6 separate regions of the Homo sapiens genome follow, and regions 1, 3, 4, 5 and 6 are each linked to region 2. The links come from fine-mapping of genetic effects on gene expression. A gene starts in region 2. Each other region holds a variant in brackets. All regions are shown on one strand. Distances are between the middles of the regions.

Region 1 (5,072 bases), 340 kb after region 2:
TTTCCCAAGGTCATTCAGTGAGTGGCAGAGCTGGGGTTTGAGCCCAGGAAATCTGCCTCAAGTAGCTGTTTTGCCTCAATAAATAATACTAACAACAACCACAGCTACCATTTGACGACCCGTTCCTATGTGCCTAGTGCTTTAATTCCTCAGAGCAATGCTGTGACTTAGGCGTTGTTCTCCGAATTTCTCATTTCACAGATGAGTAAATCCCGGTTTAGCAGGGCGCCTGGAGTGAGGTGACTGCGGAGGCTCGCAGACGTTAGGTCTGCCTAAATCCGAAGCTTCCACCCTCCTCTGCCTCTGTGACTTGCTGCGTGACTTTGGAGCTTTCGGAAACTCAGTTTCCCTGTCTTAAGCCCTCTGCTCCTCTTGCTTTCCCGCTCCAGCAAGTGAGAGTGGACTGGGTTGCCGTGCCGGGCGGGTGTGGGTCGCCGGGCAACTCCGGAGTCTCCCCTTCCCCATCGGCCCCCAGCAGAAGTCCCAGCTCCCGGCGTTTTCTGTCTCGTGGCGAGTTGGGGCGGAGGGAGCGGCGGGAAGGTGCCGGGTGGGCAAGGTCGGAGCTGCGTCACCGAGAGGCCGGCAAGGCCAGGGAGAAAAGGCCCCGCTGTGATTTGGGGAAGGGCCGGGGGCCCATAAGTCACGTGCTCGGGGCGGTTGTGCAGGAGCGGACTGTCCTCTGGGAACATAGAAGCGCCCCCGACTAGAGTAGGGGCGGGGAGGGAGCGCCGGAGGAGGCAGGTTCTGGGCCAAGGGGATGGGGGTGGGGGGGAGGTAGGGAGCCCGCGGACAAAGGAGGCGGCCGGCGGCCCAGCTGTTTTGAAAAATGCTTCCTGTTTCTTTAAAGGCGCTCGCGGCTCGGGCGGCCCGGGCTGGGGAGGCGGTGGCGGCGGGAGCTGCCTCCTCTCCGGGCGGCGGCGCTGACTGATCTCGCGAACTGGGCTTCTGTGTAAACTGAGGCTAAACAAACACAGATGGAGCGCAGCGGGCGTTCTCCAGAAATGCTGGCAAGGAGGCAGCGACTTCAGATGACACTCTGAGCGCTCCGGGAACGGACAGCCCGGCGGCTTCCCGAAGCCGGCGGCGCAGCTGCCCGGGGCGAGGGGGAGAAAGGGAGAGAGGGAGGGGGAGGGCGGGCGAAGCGGGAGAGCCAGAGACTCCTCGGCGCTGAGCGCGGCGGCGGCCCGGGCAGCCCCACGCCCCTGCCTCGCGCGCCGCCCGCGCCATGAAGCACATCCCGGTCCTCGAGGACGGGCCGTGGAAGACCGTGTGCGTGAAGGAGCTGAACGGCCTTAAGAAGCTCAAGCGGAAAGGCAAGGAGCCGGCGCGGCGCGCGAACGGCTATAAAACTTTCCGACTGGACTTGGAAGCGCCCGAGCCCCGCGCCGTAGCCACCAACGGGCTGCGGGACAGGACCCATCGGCTGCAGCCGGTCCCGGTACCGGTGCCGGTGCCAGTCCCAGTGGCGCCGGCCGTTCCCCCAAGAGGGGGCACGGACACAGCCGGGGAGCGCGGGGGCTCTCGGGCGCCCGAGGTCTCCGACGCGCGGAAACGCTGCTTCGCCCTAGGCGCAGTGGGGCCAGGACTCCCCACGCCGCCGCCGCCGCCGCCTCCTGCGCCCCAGAGCCAGGCACCTGGGGGCCCAGAGGCACAGCCTTTCCGGGAGCCGGGTCTGCGTCCTCGCATCTTGCTGTGCGCACCGCCCGCGCGCCCCGCGCCGTCAGCACCCCCAGCACCGCCAGCGCCCCCGGAGTCCACTGTGCGCCCTGCGCCCCCGACGCGCCCCGGGGAAAGTTCCTACTCGTCAATTTCACACGTAATTTACAATAACCACCAGGATTCCTCCGCGTCGCCTAGGAAACGACCGGGCGAAGCGACTGCCGCCTCCTCCGAGATCAAAGCCCTGCAGCAGACCCGGAGGCTCCTGGCGAACGCCAGGGAGCGGACGCGGGTGCACACCATCAGCGCAGCCTTCGAGGCGCTCAGGAAGCAGGTACCCGCTCGCCGCCGCACGCCCTCACTGCGCCGGGGGACGACTGCGGGAATGGGTGGGCGAGTGGCCGGGGCGGGATAGAGGTGTGTTTAAGGGGCAAGCTGCCCCGCCCGGTCCGACCCTGGTGCCCAGACAGGTGTGGGCAGTCCTAGGGTATGGATCATAGTTTTCAAAGTGGCTATAAGAGTTGGTTATCTCTGGCCCGAGCACCCCCCGCCCTCAACCCCCGCCTCGGGGGTAACGCTGTCTGCGCTTCTGACTTCAGCCTCCATAGTTCACTTTTATGGCAGCGAGTATTTGCCTGCCGGAGTCCCCTGGGCGCGGTGCGGAGTGGAGAGGGGAAATGTGGGAATCTGTCAGCGGAGGAAGGGGGGAGCCTTCTCCAGTTGGTGGTGGCAAGGTCCGGAACGCTGCGGTGGGACAGTCCGGGGGAGTTGTCAGCCCCTCTTCAGGCCCCAGCGGTGATGCCCCGAACACTCAGGTTGCTTCCGGGCTATGCACTCCTTGCCCTGGCATCCTCAAGAACCCGCGCTACAAGCC[T/C]GTGCCCTCTCCCCAGGGGTGGGCTCAGGAATCGGCTGGTGGGAGTCTTTCTAGCAGATCCCTTCCTTTCACCCGTGGTGAAGCAGGCAGCTCTGCCGAGGGGACTGCCTAGGTTGGGGATTCCCTCTGGAGCATCTTCAGAGCCTAGTTCTGGGGTGGGTCCGGGACTTTTTAGTTTGGGGCTGGTGCGGGCTGCCCTCACCAGACAGTGCCCCTGCGCAGGTAGCGGAAGAATACTTAACCCAAGAATTACCCGTGGTGGGGCGGGACAATCGCTTGGGCTTCTAGGCTTCTTATTTTCTTAGCGAGAAGGAGCTCTAGGAAGGAGGTGGTGAGTTCTCTCCCACCCCCACACAGGGCGTGGGGAAGGGTTAGGGTAGATGTGGCTGGTTTGAAGGGTGTTTTTTTTTTCTTTTTATTTGCATACTCTGCAGCTGACTTGCTGTGTGACTCCAGGAATGTTGCTCAACTTCTCTGGGCTTTATCCAGCAACAAAACATTTCAGAAACCATGATCTTCTTTTTGGATCACTCTCCTCTTCCTGCTGGGGGTTGGGGTGGGGTGGGGCAGTAGTGCCTGTGTCCATCCATGGAAAGGAAATTGAATCCTTGGAGGAAAGAGGCCCTATGACTTTTGAGCCAAAGTGTCTTGCTTGGGCTTGGGGAAAGTGGTCAGTGAGGTGGGGTGGGGGTGGGGGTGGGGGACGGGTGGCTGTCACAGACCAGGCTGGGCCTCTGCCCTCATCCACACCAGCTGGAACCCTGGGCGGTGGGTCCAGTGGAGCAGTCAGTCCCACCCTGAGCCAGCAGCTCTGTGTCTGCATCGCTGGGTAGAGGTGGCGGTGCGTGGGGGATCCTGCAACCCACTCCCCAGGACAGAAGGATAACAGAAGGGCAGAGAGATGCCTGTCCACCTGCCCACCTTGCCACTAGGGAAGCCCCTCCTAGACTGGGGAGGCACGTGCCCAGAGCCTCATAGCTGTTGAGTAGCAGGTCAGGGCTGGCACCTAGGGGCTTTGACTGCAGGTTCTGGGCCCTTGTGCTCCTCTATTGCCTCTGTATGCTGAGAGAATACTCATCTGAGTGCTTTGTTACATCTCATGTGCCCACTGACTTTTACTTCATTCAACAATCAATTCCATCTCATTTGATCTAAACATAATCCCTGTCGAAATTGGATTAACTCATTTTATAGTATGGAACACTGAGGCCCAGAGATGGAAGGAGACTTGTCCAAGGTCACCTAGTGGGTTAGGGAAGATAACAGCAGTTTCTGGAATGCCCTCCTGGCCAAATGCTTCCCACAGTGCCATCTGTATCAGCGTCATGTGCCACCCCCCCAGCCCCCAGCCTGTGATGTTTGTTAACAATCAAGGCAGGGTGCACACTTGGCAGACCCTTTGAGATGAGATTGTTCATCCTGGTCTCCTTTTACTTCCCCCCTTACCGTGGGAAGTTCTCTATAAAAAGGGCAAGTTCAGTGTATCTAAGTAGAAGGCACACCCATGCCCTCTCAGGGAGAGCGTGTGTATGCAATGCAAACACACAGGCAGGTACACACACACATGCTCCTTACACGTGCTCAAGAGCACACACAAATGCATGGTCACAGAAGCACCTGTTCCTGTTTGTTTCCTCCTTGCCCTAGCCATTCTGCCCCTTCCCCAGAAAGGCTGCCAGGCCATAGTGGGCACCTGCCTGTTAGCTGGGAAGGAAAGAAATACAGCCAGGACGTTTCTGGTCATAGAACCAGGGGCCAAGGCCACACCCACCATGTCCTCCTCACCACCATGGCACCCATTCGATAGAGGAAGTCCTGTGTTCTGGAGGAGCCCCTTCCTCCTCTGGGCCTCAGTCTTCTCTGTAAAATGTACTCCGCACCCCCTCCCCGAATCCAGACGAGCTGCAGCTCTGGAGCTAGGCTCGGGCCTGACTGAAATGGGTCCTTGGAAATGGACAAAAGGCAGATCAGCTCCGCCTGAAATGGGGCCTTGGCCAGTGTGGCACTGAGATGGGTTCTGGGATTGTGGCTCTGGCCTGGGGCTTCATTCTCCTGAGCAGCTTCCTGGTACCATGAAAGAAGCACTGATCTGGGAAACTGGAGGCCAGGCATTGAGTTGTTCCTCCCCTGCATGCCTTCTGTGTGGCTGTGGACAAGTCACTGACCCTTTCTGGGCCTCAGTTGCTGAAGTTGTAAAATGGTAATATTGCTGACCTCATCCAGTGTTGAGAAGAGAAAGTGAGGAAAGGTAGGAGGCCTATAAGAGCAGTGAACATTTCTTTCATTTCATTTTTTTTTTTTTTTTTGAGACAGAGTCTCTTTCTGTTGACCAGGCTGGAGTACAGTGGTGTGATCTCAGCTCACTGCAAACTCCACCTCCCAGGTTCAAGTGATTCTTCTGCCTCAGCCTCCCGAGTAGCTGGGATTACAGGTGCGCACCACCACACCTGGGTAATTTTTTGTATTTTAGTAGGGATGGGGGTTTCACCATGTTGCCCAGGCTGGCCTCGAACTCCTGGGCTGAGGTGATCCACCCACC
Region 2 (5,072 bases):
TCCCAGCTACTTAGGAGGCTGAGGCAGGAGAATTGCTGGAACCCGGGAGGCAGAGGTTGCAGTGAGCCGAGATGGCACTACTGCACTCTAGCCTGGGCAACAGAGGAAGAATCTGTCACACACACACACACACACACACACACACACACACACACACAAGCCCCCTTATCCTTCCAGGCCCGTATCAAGCCCCAGCTGTCCAAGGAAACTTCCAGGACATTAAGTGGCCTCCGCCTTCTCTGGGAGTTCTCCCAGCCCTCTCCCCTGGGAGCACATACTTTAGCCTGTTTTATAGCATAAACTGGCTGCTTCACATCTCAACTGGAGCAAGGACACACCTGATGCCTCTGTTCCTCAAGCAGCCCAGCAAAGAGTCTATTCCATTCCACTCAACGTCTGTGCTGGGGGCTTGGCACTGGGGGTGACATGCACAGAGACAAAGAATAGCCCATGTTTTATGGTTTAGCTGCAGGGTGCAGTGAACAAGGGAGCCACCATACCCAGTGAAACCGCAGACGAACTTCCTCTAAGTGGGGAATGTCACAGAATCACAGATGTCAGCATTAGAAAGTGCTAAAGTTGAAGAGGGGAGCTGGGGCCGGGGGGGAGGAATAAAACAAAAAAAAGAAAGCGCTAAAGTTCTTATCTAGTCCTGCTCTGCCTGCACCGCCCTACACATACCCATACACGCATAGTGCAGAAATCTCTTCTATAGCATCCCTTACCATCCTCTTCTTGAAGGCTTCCAGTGATGGGAAACTCACCACCTTACCAAACAGCCTCTTCTACACCTCTTAAAGCCTTTACTTTTCCCCACTCTGCCATAGTGTGGTGAGTTATGGACCCGCCTACCTCCACTACTACACTGTAGGGTCCTTTAGGGCAGGAAGTGTATTTTGCCTCTGGATCTAGCTGGAACCTCATGCAGGTGCTCAAAGAATGCATTTGATTAACTGGACCTGCTGGGCTCTGATTATTAGACTGGGGTGGCACCTAAGGGATAGCCCAGGATTTCAAAAGGCTGGGACAGGCTGGAGCAGCCCCAGGAGGCAGAGAGCAGGGGCTAGGGGTCCCAGACTGCCATGGGGCTGGGGGAGGGGAGGACGCAAGTCCTGCTGGCTGTCCCATGGTCCTGACTTAGGCTGTCTTTGAGGACACACTGGGGGACCTCGGAGAGGAGGTCACCGTTACACACACCTTTAAGGAAAGACTTGACAGCCATCAGAGGGACAAAAATCCTGCCGGGGTCCAGTGGTACCTTTGCCTTCCTCAGACCCTGATTCCACTGACCCCCAATAGGTCTCTTCCCTTCACAGTCCCTGCTTGCCCCTAGGTGTGAAATGAAACAGCACCTCCACTTCTCCTGGTGGAGGTAGGTGCCCACCCTCGAAACCAAACTGAATCTCCCAGCCTGGGACATGGCATTCTCAGAATCTAGGTCCAGAGGCCTCATTTGGGGATTCCAAATGGTTTTTCCCCTGATACCAAATAGGTCTCCTACCCTTCCCCAGGGTCAACCACTTCCTCCCTCCCCACCTCCTACCTCAGACAGTCCACCTAGACCCTCAGCCAAGGTCTTCCAGAGTTTGCAAAATAATCAAATGTGCCACTTGCATTTGAATTCAAATGGCTAGGACTGCCCTGCCCCCTCCCCAAGCCACTCCCACCCAAATAGCATCACACCACAGTCCTGTCTTGGGGACAGGCAGCTTCTAATCTGATTTCACCTCCAGTCTGGCTGAGGGCCTTCAGGAGCAGTGTGGTGGCCTCCGTCAGGAGGTCTGGCACAGCTGGGACAAGCCCTGACCCAAGAGTTCCTCCATGTGCAGCATGGGCACAGCCCACCCATCCTCCCGGGCAGCTTCACAGCTGCCATCAGATCAGGTGCCTGGAGCCTGGCATAAGGCTGGCAGGACAGCAGGCTGGGGGAACTCCACCCTGGCACAATGTGGTATCCAGAAATGTGGGTCTCTGTTCCCAGGCCACCACAGCCAGCCCTCGCCTGCCCACCCAGGAGGGTACCAGCCAGCCGCGCTGGCAGCCACCCTGCCACCTTCACCTTTCAACACTCCTACTTTCCTTTCTTCCTCCTACCTCTGCTTCGTAGGTTCGTCTTCCTTCCAGCCTGCCCCACCCGGCTTCTCACTTCCCTCTTACTTCTCTGGCTGCCCCAACCACCAGCCCCACCCACCAGCCCCACCCCTGGGCTCCTTCCCCAGCCGGTGTGGAGGCGATGTCCCCCGACAGGGAGGGGCAGGCAGTGCTGGGAGGCCAGCAGGCCTGAAGCAGAAGAGCAGTCACTGGGGTGGGCAGTGGGTATGCCAGGCCGTCTCCTCAGAGGGGCACACAGGGAGGCTGGAGGTCCACACAGCCCCACCACAGTGGCCTCAGCCCGCTGCAGGTCACAGCCAAGGCAAATCAGGGAGGGCATCTCTGAGTCTGAGACCAGCAAGGAAAGCCATGTTCTCCATTCAGGGCCTGGGGCAGGCGCGGCACAGCCCCCACCGCTGCTGGGTTAGTCACATTTTCTGGGCAGGGTCACTGGCTTCACATTACTTTTTCCTCCTCCCTCAGTTTGTCTTTCTCCTTGCCCTGAATGCAAGTATTTGATTTTTTTTAAGATCAGTTTTTTGGTTTTTTTTGTTTTTTTTTTTTTCCTGAGACAGGGTTCACTGTCACGCAAGCTGGAGTGCCGTGGCATTATCACCGCTAACCGCAGCCTTGAACTCCTGGGCTCAAGCGATCCTCCTGCCTCAGCCTCCTGAGCAGCTGACACCACAGGCCTGCACCAACATGCCCGACTAATTTTTTTATTTTTTCTGGAGACAGAGTCTTGCTACTCAGGCTGGTCTAGAACTCCTGAACTGAAGCAATCCTCCCACTTTGGCCTCCCAAAGTGCTGGGATTACAGGCGTGGGCTACTGCACCTGGCTAAGCTCAGTTCTCAGGGAATGGCTGAGGCCATAAAACATTCTTCACCATCTTCCGCATGCCATGCTGATGCCTCTCAGGTCTCTACCCTTTGGTCTGCTTCTCATTCACCAGATGTTTATCATCATGACTTCTGGGCCCTGGGCCCTCTGAGAGACAGCCCATCCTGGGTTGACCCAGGGCAACTATCCTGCCTACATCACAGTCACTAGACCCTAGAGCTTGTCTCCTCCAACTCGCTGGCTTTCTGGAGGACACCGAGGTCCTGAGAGCACAAGAGACTGCCCACAAACACACAGGGAGTGGAAGCCCCTGCAAGGGAGGCTCCCATTCCCTTCTGAATCCCTGGGGGAAGGATGAGCGGACTCAGTATGAGGCTCCAGGAGAAAGTGAGCACCCAGTTATGCAGCCACACAAGCGTAGTTCCTCTGCCCAGAACCTAGCCGGCCTGTCCTGGAAAGGTATTGGTCAGCAGGCTGGCTTGAGACAAGGCTCCAGGTTCAGGGTCAAGGCCTGGGGACCCTGGAGCAAAATCTGGAACAAATCTTCCTAATTAGCAGACCTTCAAACAAAACCTCATTATTTGACTGCGTGGGAAAAGTCTGGAGAAAATACAGTACTGGATAGGCTGGGCATGGTGGCTGTCTCCGGTAATCCCAGCACTTTGGGAGACTGAGGCAGGCAGATTACCTGAGGTCAGGAGTTCAAGACCAGCCTGGCCAACATGGTGAAACCCTGTCTCTACTAAAAATACAAAAATTAGCCGGGCATGGTCATGGGTGCCTGTAATCCTAGCTACTGGAGCGACTGAGGCAGAAGAATCACTTGAACCCAGGAGGCGGAGGCTGCAGAGAGCCGAGATGGCGCCACTGCACTCCAGCCTGGGAGACAAAGCAAGACTCCATCTCAAAAAAAAAAAAAGCAATACTGGATGAATGTTTCTCATTGAAACGAAATTGATAAAATTTCACTAGAGCAAGACGGGAAGTTAAATCTTCTCCCCAAAGAACATGGCCTGTAGCTAGCATCCAAGTGTCTCCATGGCCAAACTGCCAGGCTTAAAAATAGGGTAATATGGGCCGGGCGCGGTGGCTCACGCCTGTAATCCCAGCACTTTGGGAGGCCAAGGCGGGTGGATCATGAGGTCAGGAGTTCGAGACCAGCCTGGCCAGCATGGTTAAACCGCCATCTCTACTAAAGACACAAAAAATTAGCCGGGGGTGGTGGCGCATGCCTGTAATCTCAGCTATTCAGGAGGCTGAGGCAGGAGAATCGCTTGAACCCGGGAGGCAGAGGTTGCAGTGAGCCGAGATTGCGCCATTGCACTCCAGCCTGGGTGACTGGGCAAGACTCAGTCTCAAAAAATAATAATAATAACAATAATAATAGGGTAGTTTGGTGGAGGGTGGGAGGAGGGAGAGATTCAGGAAAATAACTAATGGGTACTAGGCTTAATACCGGGGAGACAAAATAATCTGTACAACAAAGCCCCATGACACGAGTTTACCTATATAACAAACATGCACATGTACCCCTGAACTTAAAAGTTTAAAAAAGAAAAAAAAGGATAGTCTGGGTGAGAATCCCAGTAGGGCCTAGTCCCCACAAAACCACAGGCTGGGCGGTTAACCTGGTAGAGTGATAAGAGCTAGACAATTTGGCTCCTTACTAGCTGTGCAAGTGACTTAACCTCCTGGAGCCTCCCTGTGCCCCAATCTGTAACACGTGCATACAGTTAAATGTGAAGATGAAATGAGATCCTATGATTAATGAGCAAATAATACATGCTCGATAAACCCAGACTTCTTTCTCTTCCCTTTAGTTTGCAATGTGCCATCAGCACCTGAGGTAGAAATGTGCCTGGCCACTCCCCTAGCTCCCGGTTTCTCCACAGGAGGAAAGAAAGTTAAACCACAGAGCACTCTCCTATTTCCATCCCCAGCCCCAGCGCTGGAAAGCTTCATAGATTTTGGTCACAACAGCGCATACCTTGGGTGGCTCTTAAGTTCTGGACTCTGTGACCCACGGAGGGAACAAGGATCAATGGGAATCACTGTTCCTCACACTCAGCTGTCTAGGCTAAAGCCTCTCCTATCACCACAGGAAAAAAGGGGAGAGGTTTACACATTAACAGCGAAACA
Region 3 (5,072 bases), 180 kb after region 2:
AAGGGAACAGGGATGGGCTGTGGGGAAGTAGGCTAAGAGGAAGGAGTTTCTGTGGTTTGCTAATCCACTGGTATTCATCTCCCTGAAATGTCCCTGCTCCTAGGCTTCTGGCTTATACCAGGGCCTCCTGCCTGGTGTCTCTCTCTGTTACGTGCACCCAAAGCCCAGTGCCTTTCTTGCACATGACCCAGACTTTCTCTCTCCCCTGTCATTTCAACCTTCCCCAGCTTGGATCCAAGACCTCCCTTCCCAGTCCTCTGAAATGAGCTGGTGTTTTCTGTTAGGCAAAGCTGCCCCCCAGGCTGGGAAATCCAAGAGTTAGTCTCATCTCTGTAAGTTGGACCCCAGTGAGGACCCCAGCTGAGTGGAAGGCTGGAGGCCAAAAACCGGTACCACTGAGGTTCCCAGACGGAGAGGGAAGTTGGAGCAGTGATATAGGGAGCAGGATCAGGCCAGGAGGCAGAACTGGCCTGACCAGTCAGAGGCCCAAAGAGGAAGATCTGAGCTTCTCAGTTTGGGGATAGAGGGGTTAGGCAGAGACTATGATGTGTGCTGCTTCAAAATTACCTTTCTAGCCTGTAGGGTAGGTCTCCTCCCTGTGTGTTCCAGCCAGGTAGCTTGGTTACCCATTCTTTGCTGCCTTCTTAGGCCAGTGGGAAACCTTAGGGCAGCTGTGCATTGATTGGGTAGACGCCATTCTGGAGCAGGTGAGAAAAGAATCAGCTTTGTGGGAGGGTGGGGTCCTGGGAAGATCCCACCTTGGGACAGCTTAGAGGAAGCTGAGGTGCTGGAAGCCGGGACTTACCTAGGTCCTAGGCCCTGCCTTGACGTGCAAGGGGAGGAGCCTGTGAGACTTAAGGTGTGCCGCACTCACCCCGAAGGCCAGACCTTCACTCCGCACACATCATACCCTTACACGAAGGATGCTGTTACTCTCATGCTGTACCCACCTACAGGGGGAGAAGGAGGCTTCTAGATCTCAGGGGCAGATGAGGGCCAGGTGGGGGCCTCATGCAGCCCTGACCTCGGGCTTGGTGTCCAGGCAGGAATAGAGTTGGAGCGGTGCCAGCAGCAGGCGAACGAGGTGACGGAAATTATGCGTAACAACTTCGGCAAGGTCCTGGAGCGTGGTGTGAAGCTGGCCGAACTGCAGCAGCGTTCAGACCAACTCCTGGATATGGTGTGAGGCCTGGGGGAGCATGGAGGGGAGGGGAGAGGATTGGGAAAGTCTCTCTTGGGCTGTATTCAGGATCTCCAGTTCCTTGGTGGGGTTGAGGCCTTCTTGAGGGCCAGTGTGGGGCCTCTGGGTTTCCTCAGGCACCCATAGCCTAGACATGCAACAGATAGACCCCACAAGATAAGAAGGCCTTGGTTTGAAGCTGTGGACCTTCTTAAAGGTAGAAAACTGGTATCGTTTTTTGTTTCTTTTTTACTTTGAGACAGAGTCTCACTCTGTCGCCCAGGCTAGTACAGTGGCACAATCATATTTGCTGCAGCCTCTACCTCCCAGGCTTAAGTGATCCTCCTGCCTCAGCCTCCTGAAGAGCTAGGACTACAAGCCTGCACCACCATGCCTGTCTAATTTTTGATTTTTTGTAGAGATGAGGTCTCACCATGTTGCCCAGGCTGGTCTTGAACTCCTGGATCCAAGAGATCCTCCCACCTTGGCTTTCCAATGTGCTGGGATTACAGGCATGAGCCACTGTGTCCAGCCTGAGTACTGGCATTGTTAACTGAGGGTGAGACACTAGGGCTGAAAGTCAAGGGCCACACCGGTGTTTGAGATGAGTCAGGCTGGGAGGGTTCCACGGCAGGTGGTATAGAAAGAGAGCAGACAAGGCCGGGCGCGGTGTCTCACGCCTGTAATCCCAACACTTTGGGAGGCCGAGGTGGGCAGATCACAAGGTCAGGAGTTCAAGACTATCCTAGCCAGTATGGTGAAACCCCATCTCAACTAAAAATACAAAAATTAGCCGGGCGCAGTGGTGTGCACCTGTAGTCCCAGCTACTAGGGAGGCTGAGACAGGAGAATTGCTTGAACCCGGGAGGCAGAGGTTGCAGTGAGCTGAGATTGTGCCACTGTACTCCAGCCTGGGTGACAGGGAGAGACTCCTTCTCAAAAAAAAAAAAAAAAGAAAGAAAGTAGACAAGATGGGGAGGATGCAGGAGGAGACTAAGCCTT[A/T]CTGAGATGGGGTTGGGAGGAGCTGGCTCCCAGGCCAAGAGGGTGCCAGCTAACTCCCACTTTGTGTCTGGGGGTATCCGCAGAGCTCAACCTTCAACAAGACTACACAGAACCTGGCCCAGAAGAAGTGCTGGGAGAACATCCGTTACCGGATCTGCGTGGGGCTGGTGGTGGTTGGTGTCCTGCTCATCATCCTGATTGTGCTGCTGGTCGTCTTTCTCCCTCAGAGCAGTGACAGCAGTAGTGCCCCACGGACCCAGGATGCAGGCATTGCCTCAGGGCCTGGGAACTGACCCAGCTGGTCCTGAAGGAGAAGCCAAATGGCTGCACTGGCCGATTCTGGTCTCCAGAGGACCTTGGTGTTTGCTCTCCCTTGACCCACCCCAGTGAGTGCCAAAGGGCAGCCCCAACATGTGCACCCCTGCATTTCCTGTCATGCCACAGACTGGCCCTTGAGGGCAGCCTGCTGTACTGGCCATGCTGGGCCAGCCCCACCTGGAGCTCAGTAAAAACTGCTGTTTGATTAAAAGCTGGTATCTGTGTGTGAAGGTCCCCAGGTTGGTTAATCCCATCTGTCTCTACCCCTAGGGCTGCTTAAAAAGCCCATCACCCAAAGGACTCCACCCCTGGGAGATGGCTCCTTCCTCTCCCTTCCCTACTTGATCCAGCCCGACACAGACAGGGAGTGTGGATGCAAGAACACAATGGCCCCCAAAGCAGACCCTTGAACCAGTCCTCCCCATCTGAGCCTGTTTCTCTGAGAATGAAATCTATTATTTTTCTGTCATCTTGGGGATGCTTAGAGGACCAATGAGACTGTAGATGCGATGACAAAGAAGAAAGCACTTCACCAATTTTTTTTTTTTTTTTTTGAGACAGAGTTTTTGCTCTGTTGCTCAGGCTGGAGTGCAATGGCACTATCTCAGCTCACTGCAAACTCCACCTCCTGGGTTCAAGCAATTCTCCTGCCTCAGCCTCCCAAGTAGCTGGGATTACAGGTGCCCACCATCACACCTGGCTAATTTTTGTATTTTTAGTAGAGACAAGGTTTCACCATGTTGGCCAAGCTGGTCTTGAACTCTTCACCTCAGGTGATCCACCTGCCTCGGCCTTCCGAAGTGCTAGAATTGCAGGCATGAGCCACCGCGCCTGGCCCAAAAAATTTTTCATAAGGCTCTCACCTTCAGATAAATGGTTTCCCCTCTGAACACTTCCCACTCCTCAATTTCTCTTTCCACATTCTATCTACCTCAAGCTTTACATCAGACTGCAGATGGGGGAAGTGACAGCAAGAGATGGGGACCTTAAAGCACTCCTTGGTATTCCCATCTCCCTCCCTCCCTTCCTTCCTTTTTCGACGGGGTCTCTCCTGTGTCTTCTCTCCCTCCCTCTTTCGACGGGGTCTATGTTGCCGAGGCTGGTCTCGAACTCCTGGGCTCAAGCAATTCTCTTGCCTTTAGTGCTGGGATTGCAGGCGTGAGCCACCATGTCCAGCCTGAATTCAGGCTTTTCAAAGCTACAGGGCCATATAGGCCAGGGAGGCAGTGCCTTCAGGGCCATAGCAAAGATCATTGGGCAAAGGCATGGAAGAAGGAAATAAAGCCACACCAAGACTGTGGAAACAGGGCAGCCTCTGCCTGGGCTACTTAGCTGCAGTTCAAACTCAGGTGTGAGTGGCAAGGGGAATTCAGGGTCAAGTGTGTAAAATAAGCAGTTCCTTGCTGGGTAAAGTGAGCGCTACTGACAGAAACCAGAATAAGCCTGAGTTGTGTGGAGCTTCACCCCTTACAGAGCGTGTTAGTTTTACTGAGCGCATTAGCGTCTTCCTCTCTTGGGAAAGATGGAGGAAAGCACTTGGCCCTGCAGCTGGTCTGCAACACCACTTACAGACTGCAAATTTGGGCAAGCCACTTCTGAGGTAAAAAGGGCATAATGACGCTTAGCTCCTGGGTCTATTGAGGGGATGATCGAGCGTGTAAAACATACATCAGACTAACAGTTCTAGATGCTAAATAGTACCTATCATCCAAATCATTGAGTGCAGTGGTTCTTAAACCTGCTTCACCTGCATAATTTATACAAGTGCCATTGCCCAGGCCCCACCACAGATCAGTTAAATCAGAATCTTCGAAGGTATCAGACACGGGTGTTTCTAAAGCTCCTCCGCGCCCATTCTCTCCTCTGGGAATTCATGTGTAGCCAGGAATGAAAAGGTCTTAGTACAAGCCAGCAGTTTTACAGAAGCTAGGGATAGCAACGGGCTGAAGGTAACAGTCCCATGAGCTGGTTGAGGCCCCAGGTTCTCCGGCAAAGAGATCTCTCTCAGTTGGGGAGGCTTGCCCCACCCTTTATTATTATGCCTAACACATAAGAAATGCGCAGGAATCAAACGCAAACTGGTGAACCAACTAGAGGGCCGCGGGGGCAGAAGTGTCCGGCGGGGATCCGGACAGCGCATCCGGAAGCGCCATGGGCCAACGCTCGCAGGAACCTGAACCCCTGGGCCAGCGCCGCCTTTGCTCGCAGAGGCCTCTAGCATCTGTACTGTCGAAGCCCTCTGAGCTTCAGGGCAGACTGAAGAGCCTTACACACCAGACACTTGGACGCGATCGCGCCAGAAATCCCCGGGAATTCAGTCTTGGCTCCGACTCCAAAACAAATGATTCCTCACCAGCCAGATCTCCATCATTGGCGTTAGTCTCTGGTCACCTGACTTGTTCAAGCCAATGAGAGGGGGCCGAATTAGTACTTCCGCTTTCCGTGCTGTTTAACGAGCCACTATGCCCGTCCCTCGGATACTCTGATTGGCCAGCCTCTCTCAGCTCGTCAGTTTATTGGCCAGCGCCGCTAGGCCGCTATCGAGCAGGGTCCGAGGGCTGTGTCAGAAGGC
Region 4 (5,072 bases), 97 kb after region 2:
GTGTTTTCATCTGTTTGCCTGCTGCTGCATCACCAGCACTGCAACAGTGCCTGACACATAGCATGTGCTCAGTGATATCTGTTATATGCATGAATGAGTGGGGCTGGACTGTGAGCTGATGAGGTTCTTGCCATGGCTAACTCCAGGCAGTCATGTCATTTGGCCCAGTTCCACTCCCTTCTGGGCCTGACTCAATTCATCTGGGTAATGAGGAGGGCACAGGAGCTGCTGCGTAAGCTGCCCTCCAGCAGTAATAATTGATGAGTCCAGGCAGTATCCACTTACCACGCCAAAGAGGTCCAAGCAGCAGGCAACAGGGGAAGGGAGGCAGGAAGCAGCTGCCAGGATGACTAATTGGGATCTCATGTCATTGGCTCCACGTGCCAATCCTTACAGACCTCAGCAAAGCTCAGGACTATTAGCTCCTGAGACTCATGCAGTCTCCTGGTCTGACCTGTCCCTCAGTGACACTCGAAAAATAACTCAGCCAGGCGTGATGGCACACGTCTCTATTTCCAGTTACTTGGGAGGCTGAGGTGGGAAGATCACTTATGCCCAGGAGGTTGAGGCTGCAGTGAGCCCTGATCACTCTGCTGCATTCCAGCCTGGGCAACAGAGCAAGATTCTGACTCAAAAAAAAGAAGAAAAAGAAAGAAAAAGAAAAAATAACTAATAACTTCATCTTACAGTGGTGACACGGAGACCTGGAGCAGGAATACAGAGATGTGCCAAACTTTGTACAGAAATTTTGCAAAACTAGATTCAGCTCTCATTCCACAAATACCAGGACCTCCCCTGCACCAGGCACTGTTCTAGGCAAGGACAGAGCAATGAAGAGGGGAAGCTCCTCACCTGTGTTTCCTCGTGAGGCCTGAAGCGCCTGCTTTCCCTTCCACCTCCTGCTCTCCAGCCTCTTAAGTCCCCTCACTCTGTGGTCAATCTAATTGGATAGAACCCTTTCATCTCAAAACCAAAACAACAGCGACCCATGCACACTCCTAGTAGACCAATGGGACTGTAGCACTGATTTCACCATATGCCCCTCCTGCATCCCAGGGACGTCAACTCTGCACTTCAGTCCAGCTTTCAGGAAACTCCAAATCTCTCCCCCATTCCCACCTCTTCCTGTCTATGGTCCCACTGTGAGCCGATAGAGTTCTCACCACGGCTGACACCAGGCAGCCATGTGGTTGGGGCCAGTCCCATTCCCTTCTGGGCCTGATTCAGTTCATCTGGCTAATGAGGAGGGCACATGAGCCTTCTGTGCCTGTTGGGCCGGCTGCCTCAGTGACCACTGCCAATTGTGTGTTCCCCTTATTCAGCACCTTCATACCTTCTTCCGGTTTTGCCCATCTGAGCTGAATCAATTCCTCCATCTTCACAGGGAGGTAGCCTTCTCTCAGTCCCCAAACCCTTGATAAGGGAACGCACCACCACCTCGCAGGCCTGCCTGACTTGAGTGCATCACAGTTCTCCACCTAATTATTTGTTGTCCCGGATTGTTTCATGTATGTATGTCTGATCTCTCCATAAGACTGTAAACTTACTGAGGGCAGAGATGACGCTTACCTTTCCATATCCTACATGCTTTAGCCTGGTGCCTACTCACTGGGCAATCCATCAGTGATGAGTTTACCTGGATTTACTAATTCGTGATATTTACAAAGAATACATTTGGGAAAATGTGTATTTGTTTACAGATGTTAAAAGGAAAACGTAAAATACAAGATTGTATGTACAGCTTGATAATCACAGTGTCAATTACGTGTTCATATGGGTAAAACTGGAAGGCAATTGGTAAAAATAAAGAGTAGTGTGAGGGCTGTTAGATTATGAGTGATTTGTTTAAATAATCTGTGAATATTGTTACTGCACTGTTTATGCATTTGAAAAGCCTTTTTTTTTTATCCTAACCAGTAGACCACCAGGGATAAAATGATTTTTAAAAATACATAGAGGGCTTTAAGAGTCATTGAAACATTCCACTCTTGGATGTAAGCTCATTAAGTCTTTCTTAGTCAGCAACTACTAGGGAATGGGAACAGGGTGGGTGGGGGGCTTGGCAGTCTTTTAGAGACTTTACTCACGGAATATTTATACACAAATAGCTGAGCAAAGGAGGAAAACTTCTCAAAGTTGATTTTTTTGCCTGCAAACGTTAATTCCGTGGGGAAAGGACAGAAAGATAAACAGTTTAAAATAACCAAATGAAATCATGTGAGCTTGTAAAGATTTTTTTTCTCTCTCTCTCAACAAGGATGGGATGTCCATGAAGTCCTCTCGGAGCTTCCCGGATTTTTTGTGCTCTGAAGCTCCAGCAGTGGGGAGCGGGGCTGAGAGAGGGAGATGGGTGATGTGGCGCCCATCCCTCCAGGCAAGGACTGCCCTGGCACAGCTTTCCTCTTGATTCCCTAAC[C/T]GCTCTTTACATGTTTATTTTATCTCTATCAGACTATGGGCTCTCACAGATGAAGACCATACTCTTCCTGCAAAACACTCGGTCCCACAGCACATGTAATATCTAAGAGGAACCTGAGAGGTCACTGGTCTAATCCCCTCATCAGACAAAAGAGGACCAGACTCAGAGAGAGAGGCACGTGCCATAGCGACACAGCCAGTTTCTTTGGAGGCCTGGTCTCAGCTCTGGACTGCTCAAGCCTATCCTTGACAGTGGCACTGCTCAGCCTGGACATTTAGAGTGTCCTTCTGATACAAATGTATTGAGTCTCTGCCCCTGAGCTAGAAAGATGGCAAAACAAAGATAAGAAAAGGCCAAAAAACCAAGCTCCCTAACATTAAGGATATTATAATTCAGAGGGAAAGATAGGGCACTCTCACAGACAACTAGAATACAAGCAGAAAGTGAGGATGAGTTGCAAGAGGCATACACCTAGTTGGGAAAGAGCCTGCTGGGGAGATGGACCAAAAAGGGCTCCACTGGGATTAAGCCAGCCCTTGAATGGGGATCAAAATAATGCAAATGAAGTCAGAGGCACTGAATCAGTTCATTTATTTAACAAACACTGACTACCATGTGCCAAACAAGGATCTAGATACTCAGGAAACACATCTCTACTAGCCTCATGGAGCTTACATTCAAAGAAGGGTAGGGGACAGGCACTAAACAAAATATATAAGTAAAAGTAGGTTAGATAGGCTGGTGGGAATGTAAAATGATGCAGCCATTATGGAAAGCAGTATGGTGGTTCCTCAAAAAATTAAACATAAAATTACCACTTGATCCACCAATTCCACTTCTGGGTATATACACAAAAGAATTGGCCGGGTGCAGTGGCTCATACTTGTAATCCCAGCACTTTGGGAGTCCGCGGCGGGCGGATCAGGAGGTCCGGAGTTCAAGACCAGCCTGACCAACATGGTGAAACCCCATCTCTACTAAAAATACAAAAATTAGCTGAGCGTGGTGGCGCACGCCTGTAGTCCCAGCTACTTGGGAGGCTGAGGCAGGAGAATCGCTTGAACCTGGGAGGCGGAGGTTGCAGTGAGCTGAGATCTTACCCCGGCACTCCAGCCTGGACAACAGAGCGAGATTCCATCTCAAAAAAAAAAGAATTGAAAGCAGGGACTCAAAGAGATATTTGTATACTCATGTTCATAGCAGTATTATTCACAATAGCCAAAAAGTGGAAGCAACTCAAATGTCCTTTGACAGATGAATGGATAAACAAACTATGGCATATACAGACCATGCAATATTATTCAGTCTTTTTTTTTTTTTTTTTTTTTTTGAGATGGGGTTTTGCTCTTGTTGCCCAGGCTGGAGTGCAATGGCGCAATCTCGGCTCACTGCAACCTCCGGCTCCCAGGTTCAAGCAATTCTCCTGTCTTAGCCTCCAGAGTAGCTGGGATTACAGGCGTGCACCACCACGCCCAGCTAATTTTGTATTTTTAGTAGAGGTGGGGTTTCACCATGTTAGTCAGGGTGGTTCAAACTCCTGACCTCAGGTGATCCACCCGCCTGGGCCTCCCAAAGTGCTGAGATTACAGGCGTGAGCCACCACGCCTGGCTAGTCAATCTTAAAAAAGGAACAGAATTCTGGCTGGACATGGTGACTCATGCCTGTAATCCCAGCACTTTGGGAGGCTGAGGCGGGTGGATCACCTGAGGTCAGGAGTTCAAGACCAGCCTGGTCAACATAGTGAAACCCTGTCTGTACTAAAAATACAAAAATTAGCCACGTGTGGTAGCATGCACCTGTAGTCCCAGCTACTCAGGAGGCTGAGAAAGGACAATTGCTTGAACCTGGGAGGCGGAGGTTGCAGTGAGCCGAGAGATTGCGCTACTGCATTCCAGAATGGGTGACAGAGTGAGACTCCACCTTAAAAAAAAAAAAAAAAAAAGGAATGAAATTCTGACACAAGCTACCACATGGATAAACCCTCAAAGACACTGTGCTAAGTGAAATAAACCAGACATAAAAGGACAAAGATTGGCCAGGCTTGGTGGCTGGCCGGGCGCAGTGGCTCATGCCTGTAATCCCAGCACTTTGGGAGGCTGAGGCGGGCAGATCGCCTGAGGTCAGGAGTTCGAGACCAGCCTGGCTAACATGGTGAAACCTCGTCTCTACAAAAATTAGCAAGGTGTGGTGGCAGGTGCCTGTGATACCAGCTACTTGGGAGGCTGAGGCAGGAGAATCGCTTGAACCCAAGAGGCGGAGGTTGCAGTGACCCAAGATCGCACCACTGCACTCCAACCTGGGCGACAGAGCAAGAATCCATCTCAAAAAAAAAAAAAAAAAAAGAGAGAGAGAGAAAGATCCTAGTGTTACAGTTACATGAGGCACCTAGTGTAGTCAAATTCATAGAGACAGAAAGTAGAATGGTGGTTACCAAGGGCTGGGGGGAGTGGGGAATGGGGAGGTAGCGTTCAAAGAGTATAGAGCTTCAACAGTTGAGGAAGATGCAAAAGGTCTGGAGATGGATAGTGGTGATGGTTGCACAACAATGTGAATGTAATTAATGCCACCGAACTGAAAACTTACAAACTATTAAAATGGTAATTTTTGTGTGGTGTATATTTTACCACAGTGAAATAAGTAAATAAAATAATAGGG
Region 5 (5,072 bases), 31 kb before region 2:
TGTCAGGGCAGCTTCCCATGGCAAGCCCTTGAAGCATTGCTCGCTGCCACACCCTGTTTCCTCACGGTCTCTGTTACAGGAGCGAATCCAGCCACAGACCTGAGAGGCGCAGGCTTCCTTGCCCTCCTGCATCTGCTCTACCTGGTGATGGACTCAAAGACCTTGCCGATGGCGCAGGAGATTTTCCGCCTGTCTCGTCACCACATCCAGGTGAGACTTTGGTGGGAAGCCAGAGGAAAGGAAAGGGCCGTGGAGCTAGGACCTGAGTGGCCGAGAGGGCTCCCAGGACAGCTGAGATAAACCAGGAATGGGCTTCCCCGTCAGTCTGACCTGCATTGAAATATGAGCTGTACCGCTCATTAGCTGTGTAGCTCAAGCAAGTTCCTCGACTCCTCAGAGCCTTGATTCCCTCATCTGCAGAATGGAAATCATAGTGTTGTTAGAAATGCTTGTTCTTTGGTGCCGTAAAGAAATAGCACTTGAACATAAATTTAATTTCTTCAGCAAGGATTTTTTTTACTTTCTGCAGAAAGGGTACACTCACTAGCAGTTTTGCCACGAGAGTACACTGAATAAATGAGACAGGATCATTTATAACTTGACCCATATACTTTACTGCTGTGTCCGGTTTCTATTGGCTGGAATGGGACTTCACATTCGTATTTGTCTTGATTGGCTAGCAACTTAGAACTTTTTAAAAGAAGCAAAGGAAGAGGAGAACAAAGGAAGGAAGAAATAACTTGTGGAATGCTGAGAAAGGTAAAAACACCTTCAAATAAGGAAGAAGAATAGGCTATGACTTAATGCTTGCTTGGACCAGTATAAGCATGCCAGGGCAAATATTTAGGCTAAATTGTGGGAGCTAAGAACATAAAGTACAGTGACTTCTTCATTATGGCTAGCAGATATTTAAGAACGTTAGCAGAGGTCTTTGAATAAATTTTGCTTCTAAGAGAAGTTACTATTTATCTTAATTAGATGGGGAGGAAAGTCTTTGAAGAGGAACGTCTACTTTACTTTTTACAGTGTGACCCTGAAAATCTGAGGTCTCAGTTAATTTAGAAAGTTTATTTTGCCAAGGTTGAGAACACATGCCCGTGACACAGCCTCAGGAGGTCCTGATGATATGTGCCCAAGATAGTCAGAGCACAGCTTGGTTTTATACATTTTAGGGAGACATGAGACATCAATTAACATATGTAAGAATGAACATTCATTCAGTCCAGAAAGGCGGGACAACTAGAAGCAAAAGCGGGAGGACTCGAAGCAGGGAGGGGACTTTCAGGTCATAGGTAGATAAGAGACAAATAATTACATTTGAGTTTCTGCTTAGGGTCTCCAAAGGAGGCAATCAGATATGCATTTATCTCAGTGAGCAGAGGGGCAACTTTGAATAGAATGGGAGGCAGGTTTGCCCTAAGCAGTTCCTGGCTTGACATTTCCCTTTAGCTTAGTGATTTTGGGGGCCCAAGATATTTTCCTTTCACATTTTCCCCCTTTTCTTTTTTAAAATCTTTTGGAGAAAGCATTTTAGAAGAAAATGAATCTCTGGTCTTAGGTTTCATCTGATCTCTTACGGCTAGGATGGTTTATTCCTAGACGGATAGGTCCCCGAGTTATTAGGAAAGTTCATTTTTAGAAGGTTGTGAAGTCTCATGTCCTATGAAGAGAAAATACGGGGAGGAAGTGAAAACAACAACAACAAACAAAAGAACAATCCTGGATATCAATATAGGCCACATTCTTCTGAAGTCTATACATCAGTAGGCAGGTATGAAAGTGGCTTATGTATGTAAATAGGTTGCTGTTATTTTCTTCTGAAGTTGTCTGGCTTCAGTTTGCAGGGCTGTAAGAAAGTACGGCTTAATTTTCAGTGACTCCAAATTAGGAAAATGGAAAAAAAAAGGAGGAAAAGAAATTTAAAACATTATTTTGTTTTGTTTTGTTTTGTTTTTTTGGAGACGGAGTCTCGCTGTGTCCTGTTGCCCAGGCTGGAGTGCAGTGGCGCGATAGCACACTGCAGCCTTCGCCTCCCAGGTTCAAGTGATTCTCCTGCCTCAGCCTCCTGAGTAGCTGGGATTATAGGCACATGCCACCACGTCCGGCTAATTTTTGTATTTTTAGTAAAGACGGGGTTTCACCATGTTGGTCAGGCTGGTCTCGAGCTCCAGACCTCGTGATCTGCCCGCCTCAGCCTCCCAGAGTGCTGGGATTACAGGTGTGAGCCACCGTGCCTGGCTGAAAACATTATTTTGAAGACTTGTAGCCAAGAAAAATTAGAATTCAGCCCAAACTGTAGAAAATTATTAAAATTGAAAAACATTAGGCAAGACTAGGATCTAATGACAGGTGTACTATAGTTTTTGAAACATAATTTTTCTTTCTCCAGTTTCCTGTTTTTACTAAAGACAAATCATGGTAGGACCGATTTGCTTTATAATACTTAGCCAGATTATTT[G/A]TATAAAGTACAGCAAGAATAGTTATTTTTCACATAGGCTTTTTTTAAAAATTGGCTTTGATGGAACTTTGTTATATAGAAGGAATCTCAGGCAAGACTTTTTTTTAAAGCCAAGCCTTGCCATGGATTTGTACCATCAAATATCTATGAGTTGGGTGAATTTCCTCTCCTCTTGAGGTTCCAGGATAAACCTGGGGCTCCTGGGCCTGCCATAAAGTAACATTCTTTACTTAACACAAGTCAGAAACCCTGTTCAGGGACTGTGTACACAAAATATGAGGCCAGTTTCCCAAGGGCGTTATTGGCTTCATAAATCAAGTTTGAGTTCTTAAAAGAAATGACATGGTTCCAGTCAAAGCCTTGGTAAAATAATTAGTTTCTCCAGTTGTGTCCTATTAGCAGTGAAAACAGATTCTTATTGTATTTATGCAAATAACTGTATTGCCATAAATTAAGAATACTCACAAATAGTTTCCAAATTCTGGAGAACTCAGGTAGAGAGAAACAAATATGTTCCAAATTTTGGTCATAGCAGTATACTAAATTGTTAAAAGCTGTCAATAGCTCAAAAGAGAAGTTTGAAGACTCTGAAAAACAAAACAAAGGATCAGCAACGTTTTAAGCAAAAGGTCAAAAAAATTAGTTCAATCCATGCAGTTAATTCCTGTTCTGCTTTGATATTCATGAACATTTTAGCTCTCCATGAGTCTGAAAGTTTTTCCTCTATTCTGATGTCACAATCTCCAAAGTTATCAGAAACCTGCATTCAAGAGCCCCTGTTAGAGTTTTAAGATGATGATTATTATTTATTTATTTATTTTTAGACTACTCTTGCTCTGTCGCGCAGGGTGAAGTGCAAGTGGTGCAATTTTGGCTCATGGCAACCTCCACCTCCCAGGTTCAAGCGATTCTACTGCCTCAGCCTCCGAGTAGCTGGGATTACAGGCACCTGCCACCACACCCAGTTAATTTTTGTATTATTAGTAGAGACAGGGTTTTGCCATGTTGGCCAGGCTGGTCTTGAACTCCTGACCTCAAGTGATGTGCTCGCCTCAGTCTCCCAAAGTGCTGAGATTACAGGCATGAGCCACCATGCCTGGCCTTTTATAGCTGATTATAAAACCACCTTCTAAAGAGGACCAAACAACACAACAATTGTCTGTGGATGACAAAAAGTTTTAGGGAAGCCATTGTTGAAGACCCAGTTGACAAGGAAATTTGTTATCTCTGTGGCACAGAATAATTTAACATAACAATTATAATTATTACTGATAATGTACACTAAGTTATATCAGAATTTTAGGAGTTTCCCATAATTTTGGAACACATACCAATAACACATTTATACAAATACAGCCCAAAGAAAATCGTACACCATTTCATATTTGACAATGCTTCCTGTATAATTTTTATACCAAATAAGCCAAATTATGTCATTTTTGGACTTTATGGAGCCTAATATCTTAAAGGATTTATCAGGTCAGAAAAAGACATAATTTATGATTTGATTTTGGAAAGTTTGTCAAATATCAAAGGTTTAAAACTTGATATCACAAAATAGGATCACAGGTCATTATAAGATAAGTCATTCTTTTAACCAAAGCAATAACTCAAGGATTTCAAAAAGAAGGTGAAAATCTCCATTCCTTGAGAGCGGAGACTTGATTTTTCAATCAATAAGCCCTAATAAAAACAGCATGAAGCCAATTAAATTTATTTTTCAAAATTTTGTAAACAATCTATAAAATTTTAATCTTGACCATAAGATATAACTTCCATAAGCCTTTTATAACCTTTATAACCTTTATTAAGGGGCTGGTTAATGCTTCAAGAAAATCTTGTTAATCTGATGCAGGGGCTCATGTGCTGCTTTTGCATCAGTGTGCCTTTGACATTCATGATTAATTTATAAAGAAACTTAACCTATTTTATCTTTAAAAAATCAGCTCTTGCAATCTCATGCACCCACCTCTTCCGCAATAGTCCCTGGGCCTTGAAGAGTTGAGTAGCTTTAATTTCTGGCCCCGTGTCTTAGGAATGCAGTTTATTCTGATTGGCATCTTCTACCAGGCCTGAAGATGAGGCTTTAATTGCTGTCAATGTTTAAGATTTGGGCTGGGCGCGGTGGCTCACACCTGTAATCCCAGCACTTTGGGAGGCCGAGGCAGGCAGATCGTGAGGTCAGGAGATCAAGACCATCCTGGCCAACACGGTGAAACCCCGTCTCTACTAAAAATACAAAAAATTAGCTGGGCGTGGTGGCGGGTGCCTGTAATCCCAGCTACTCGGGAGGCTGAGGCAGGAGAATGGCGTGAACCCAGGAGGTGGAGCTTGCAGCGAGCCGAGATCTTGCCACTGCACTCCAGCCTGGGTGACAAAGCAAGACTCCTTCTCAAAAAAAAAAAAAAAAAAAAAAAAGATTTGGCAGGACATAGGGCTGGGTGCAGCGGCTCATGAGTGTAATCCCAGCACTTTAGGAGGCCGAGGCGGGCAGATCACGAGGTCAGGAGGTCAAGACCATCCTGCCTAACGTGGTGAAACCCCGTCTCTACTAAAAATACAAAAAATTAGCTGGGTGTGATGGTGGGTGCCTGTAGTCCCAGCTACTCAGAGG
Region 6 (5,072 bases), 52 kb before region 2:
CCAGGTCTAGTATTATAAGCCCCTGACCCAGCCTGTGTGTGAGGCCTAAACAAAGCCTGAGCACTTCAGCTAAGACCACCCACCAAGGTGACACCTTTAGCCTCACGCCTTTGATAAGCTGGCCCAGGTCCCAGTAACTCCATTGTCAGAAACAGACCCCATCCCTTCTAGTGGTGCTGCTGCCTTTTGGACACAGAATCCAGCTCACAGTCCCCTGTGTGGTCCCCTTTTGGCCATCCTGTGGCTTGGGTAGTAAGAGGTAAGCATTTGGCTGAGGCAAGTTGTTCATTCAGAATAAATTCACAGCTGCTTAAATTTTGTCAACAGGCCGAGCGTGTTGGCTCATGCCTGTAATCCCAGCACTTTGGAAGGCCGAGGCAGGCGGATCACGAGGTCAGGAGTTCAAGACCAGCCTAACCAACATAGTGAAACCCCATCTCTACTAAAAATACAAAAATTAGCAGGGTGTGGTGGCGCACGCCTGTAATTCCAGCTACTCGGGAGACTGGGACAGGAGAATCGCTTGAACCCGGGAGGCGGAGGTTGCAGTGAGCCGAGATCGCACGGCTGCACTCCAGCCTGGGCAACAGGGCAAGACTCCAACTCAAAAAAAAAAAAAAATTGTCAACAGAGGCATAACTGAATGGTGAAACCAGTTTTCTTTTTCAATTTCTTTTTTTTCTTTTGTGCAGAGCTGAGGCTTCGAAGACCTCAGAGGACTTCTCTCAGCACTCACAGAAACCTCCTACACCCTCGGATGGCACAAAGGGACTGTTTTCTTACTCTTAGTCTGAGTGACTGCCAAGGAAGGCAAAGGTAGAGCAACTGGATCTCTGGCTCTCCACATAGCTTCTGATCTCAGACCTTACTAAAATGCTTTCTGGGCCCAAGGACAAAGCTCACATGAACAAATGATTTTGAGTCATGAATGAAAAATCTTGCTCTTTCCATAGTAAAGAAGAATTAAGAGATGGACAGGTAAGCATGCACTCTTATTTGGGAAAGGTGGTGTTGGTTTGAGATATATCATTAAGTATAGTAAGAATATATTAAGAGAATATTTGGAAAAATTTAGAAACCCTCATTATAGTTCTCTTTGTTCTGTAAGAAGGAGCTTCTATTCACCTCAGGGTCAATTGCTTTTCCTAATAGCTTGTTTTGTAAGTGAGTTATGAGATTTTTGTTTTCTTTTTGCTTGGGTAGTGGGGAGAATTTCATTGAGGAATCACCCAAGAAATCTGTATTTCATTGATTTGGATCATTACCTTACTAGCCTCTTCCCTGTGAAACGCTTGCTTTGGCCTGATCATCCTCAGGACTCAGTTCAATGTGATATGTCTTTGTATGAGCCGGGCAGCTAACCCTACATGCCTTACCTTTCACACTACTTTGCCCACCCAAAAATGGTCTTAAATGGAGGCTGTGGGATTCAGTGGCCAGACTGGGACAAAGCCTTTGCTTTGGGTCTCCAGAAAGATTTTCTTCACTGTAGTAATATGCGAACTGTTCCAAAGAGGGAAGTCTTTGGACACTGGAGGGGACTGAATTGGAGAAGGAAAGGAAGGATGAAATGAATCTCAGGTACACAGATGCCTGCAGGAAGTTGTTCAGCACAATGAATCACCAAATATTTTAGAGATAAAATTTCAACAAAAATTTGAGAAATATATTTTGTGCTTAGTACTGTGCCAATGGTTGTGAAACATATAAAAGAAATATAAGAGCCTGGAGGCAGTGGCTCACGCCTGTAATCCCAACACTTTGGGAGGCTGAGGTGGGCAGATCACTTGAGGTCGGGAGTTGGAGACCAGCCTGGCTAACATGATGAAACCCTGTCTTTACTAAAAATACAAAATTATCTGGGCATGGTGGTGCATGCCTGTAATCCCAGCTACTCAGGAAGCTGAGGCAAGAGAATCGCTTGAACCCAGGAGGCGGAGGTTGCAGTGAGCTGGGATCACACCATTGCACTCCAGCCTGGGTGACCAAGTGAGACTCTGTCTCCAAAAAAAAAAAAAAAAAAAATGAAAAAAGAAATATAAGAGAAGGTCCTTATGCAGGCCTTTTGCAGAGGAACTTTTGCTGCATACAAGGGTTACTGGACTTAGAGGTGTGAGACAGCATTGTAGCCCCAGCTAGTAAGGTAGGTTGCCTTGAGTAGGTGGAACTGACCTTGATCAGAGAAGAGAGTGGAGGTGTATTCTGGAGGAAAACTACATGAACAAAGGGATGGAAGTGAGGAGAGGGATCTGCAGCAGGTGTGTTGATTGCATTACAGTGGGAAATAAATGCTTAGCCATCATGAGCTCCTTTACCAGGGAGCTTGGTCAGCTGTGAGGTGTTTTGGCCTCCATCCTTGCATCTGGAACATGAAGAAATGAAAGTTGTGTTTAATGAGCATTAGTTGGAAAGGCAAAAAAAAAAAGCAGAAGGATTAGAGTAACAGGATGATCTGGGATTCCAGGGCCTTGGCATAATACATTCACATGGTTCAAAATGCAAAAAGTACAGAACGATATATGTATTGTGAAGAAACCACCTTCCACCCTTGTCCCCCCAGCCACTCAGTTTTTCTGCTGGAGACAAAGCTACTGCTTCCTTGGGTATAACTGTGAAAATGGTCTCTGCAGAGACAAGCAAATGTGCTTATGTACTTTTAAAAAATAAAATGGTAAAATAGTGTATAGACTCTGTCCTTTGCTTTTTCACTTAATACATCACGGAAATTGTCCCATATTGCCTGTAAAGTAAAGCACTTTCTCATTTGTCTTTATGGCCAT[A/G]TAGTATCTCACTGAGTGAATGTGCTTTTATTTATGTAAATCAGCCCATTAATGAACATTTAGGTTTTTCCAGCCTTTCCCTATTATAAACAGTATGACAAAGAATCACACTATAAATGTAAACATGTCGGTTTTGCACATGGATGAATATATCTGTTAGATAAATTACTAGAATGCAGTATCAGGCCCCGCATGTACAAAACATGTATGATTTCATTAGGTACTATCAAGCTGTAGAGGTGGTAACAGTTTACTCTCCAGTGTGTTATGCACTCTGGCCAATGTACATGTTATCAGACTTTTTGATCTTTGATAATCTGACTAATGAAACACAGTAGTTTTACATGACTCTTTTTTTTTTTTTTTTTTTTGAGATGGAGTCTTGCTCTGTTGCCCAGGCTGGAGTGCAATGACGCGATCTCGGCTCACTGCACCCTCCGCCTCCCAGGTTCAAATGATTCTCCTGCCTCAGCCTTTCGAGTAGCTGGGATCACAGGTGTGCACCACCACGCCCGGTGTGCTAAAAATACAAAAAAAATACTTTTTTGTATTTTTAGTAGAAACAGGGTTTCACCATGTTGGCCAGGCTGGTCTTGAACTCCAGACCTCAGGTGATCCACCCACCACAGCCTCCCAAAGTGCTGAGATTACAGGTGTGAGCCACGGTGCCTGGTGACGTTTTTCTGTTTTGCTTTTTTTTGTTTTGTTTTGTTTTAATGAGTGAGGTTGAACATTTGTTCATATGTTTAAAACCAATTTGTGATTGTGCAGGATGGCTCGTGTCTGTAATCCCAGCACTTTGGGATGTCAAGGTGGCTTGAGCCCAGGAATTTGAGACCAGCCTGGGCAACCATATGTAGACCCCATGGCTACATGGGCATGGTGGTGTGCACCTGTGGTCCCAGCTGCTTGGAATGCTGAGGTGGGAGAATCCCTTGAGCCAAGAAGTGAGTGAGCCATGATCGTGCCACTATGCCCCAAGTGGGGCAACAGCGCGAGACTCTATCTCAAAAAAACCCACATGGAGAAACCCCGTCTCTACTAAAAATACTCTACTAAAAATTAGCAGGGCGTGGTGGCGCATGCCTGTAATCCCAGCTACTCAGGAGTCTGAGGCAGGAGAATCACTTGAACCTGGGAGGCATAGGTTGAGGTGAGCCGAGATTGCACCATTGCACTCCAGCCTGGGCAACAAGAGCAAAACTCCATCTCAAAAAAAAAAAAAAAAAAAAGCCACCATTTCAGTTACCTTTTGTGTAAACCATCTATATCCTTTTTCTAATGTTTCCACTGGGTTGGTTTTTCTTTTTTTTTTTTGAGATGGAGTCTCACTCTGTTGCCCAGGCTGGAGTGCGGTGGCGTAATCTCAGCTCGCTGCAACTTCCACCTCCCAGGTTGAAGCCATTCTCGTGCCTCAGCCACCTGAGTAGCTGAGATTACAGGCATGTGCCACTACATCCGGCTAATTTTTGTACTTTTTAGTAGACATTGGGTTTCACCATGTTGGCCAGGCTAGTCTTGAACTCCTGACCTCAAGAGATCCTCCTGCCTTGGTCTCCCAAAGTGCTGGGATTACAGGCGTGGGCTACCACACCCGGCTGGTTTTTCTTTTTTGCCTTAATGATTTTTTTTTTCTCTGAGATTAAACTTTATTAAAGTTACTTTTCCAGAAAATTCAGTGAATATGGTAACATAGGAACAAACTTAGGCTCATAAGCCCTTTACATTTTTACATAATCTTTAATGATGTTGATCAGGAAATTCTTTCACTGGTAGAATTACTTCTCCATTCTCCAGAATTGTATCATCTGGGAATATTCTGGGCTTCTTTTCAATGGTGCCATATGGTTTTTTTAGATACATGATACTTCTTGGTGCTCTATATGTTCAGAGAAACTTCTCTAGTAACAAACTATAGAAATGATGATTTTTTATTTTTTAAACAGTAGAGACAGGGTCTCCGCATGTTGCCCAGGCTGCTCTCGAACTCCTGGGCTCAAGCAATCCTCCTGCCTCAGCTTCCCAAAGTGCTGGGATTGTAGCTGTGAGCCACCACACCTGGTGATTTTTAGGATTTTAAAAGAACACGTTGAAAAATTAGCTCTGTATCTGTGAAATGAGTTACAAACAATTGGCCGAGTATTTTGGTCGGTTTTTTGTTTTTCATCTGTAGCAGGGGATAGGTTTGGCTGAGCAGAAAGGCCATAGGAAACTGCTTCACTAAACTTCGCTCACTCAGAACCCTCAGACTTTCAAAGAGCCAGGAAATCGGTATAAAATTTTTGAGATAAC

What was found.
Region 1: its variant is fine-mapped to the expression of CAPG in amygdala (GTEx, PIP above 0.99).
Region 3: its variant is fine-mapped to the expression of CAPG in whole blood (TOPMed, PIP 0.92).
Region 4: its variant is fine-mapped to the expression of CAPG in lymphoblastoid cells (GEUVADIS, PIP 0.92).
Region 5: its variant is fine-mapped to the expression of CAPG in whole blood (INTERVAL, PIP 0.90).
Region 6: its variant is fine-mapped to the expression of CAPG in unexposed skin (GTEx, PIP above 0.99). The same link has a PIP of 0.9 or more in anterior cingulate cortex, breast, nucleus accumbens, pituitary and thyroid.

What each region holds. Positions count from the first base shown.
Region 1 is chr2:85,752,965-85,758,036 of GRCh38, forward strand. It overlaps ATOH8 (atonal bHLH transcription factor 8), which reads left to right and starts at 1,027. Exons shown (of 3, transcript NM_032827.7): 1 at 1,027-1,993. The coding sequence starts at 1,226. The variant T/C (reference allele first, on the strand shown) is at 2,534.
Region 2 is chr2:85,408,223-85,413,294 of GRCh38, forward strand. It overlaps CAPG (capping actin protein, gelsolin like), which reads right to left and starts at 2,144. Exons shown (of 10, transcript NM_001747.4): 1 at 2,095-2,144. RefSeq lists silencers at 2,162-2,211, 2,322-2,371.
Region 3 is chr2:85,590,683-85,595,754 of GRCh38, forward strand. It overlaps VAMP5 (vesicle associated membrane protein 5), which reads left to right. Exons shown (of 3, transcript NM_006634.3): 2 at 1,043-1,180; 3 at 2,266-2,724. The coding sequence ends at 2,475. RNF181 (ring finger protein 181) reads left to right here and starts at 5,063. Exons shown (of 5, transcript NM_016494.4): 1 at 5,063-5,072. RefSeq lists enhancers at 2,010-2,511, 2,512-3,011 and a silencer at 4,955-5,072. The variant A/T (reference allele first, on the strand shown) is at 2,183.
Region 4 is chr2:85,504,793-85,509,864 of GRCh38, forward strand. No RefSeq gene overlaps it. Among named protein-coding and RNA genes, the nearest start is that of PARTICL, 32 kb to the right of the region's middle. The variant C/T (reference allele first, on the strand shown) is at 2,417.
Region 5 is chr2:85,377,265-85,382,336 of GRCh38, forward strand. It overlaps ELMOD3 (ELMO domain containing 3), which reads left to right. Exons shown (of 14, transcript NM_001135022.2): 11 at 80-210. Among named protein-coding and RNA genes, the nearest start is that of ELMOD3, 25 kb to the left of the region's middle. The variant G/A (reference allele first, on the strand shown) is at 2,459.
Region 6 is chr2:85,356,275-85,361,346 of GRCh38, forward strand. ELMOD3 (ELMO domain containing 3) reads left to right here. Exons shown (of 14, transcript NM_001135022.2): 4 at 693-978. The coding sequence starts at 925. Among named protein-coding and RNA genes, the nearest start is that of ELMOD3, 4.0 kb to the left of the region's middle. The variant A/G (reference allele first, on the strand shown) is at 2,781.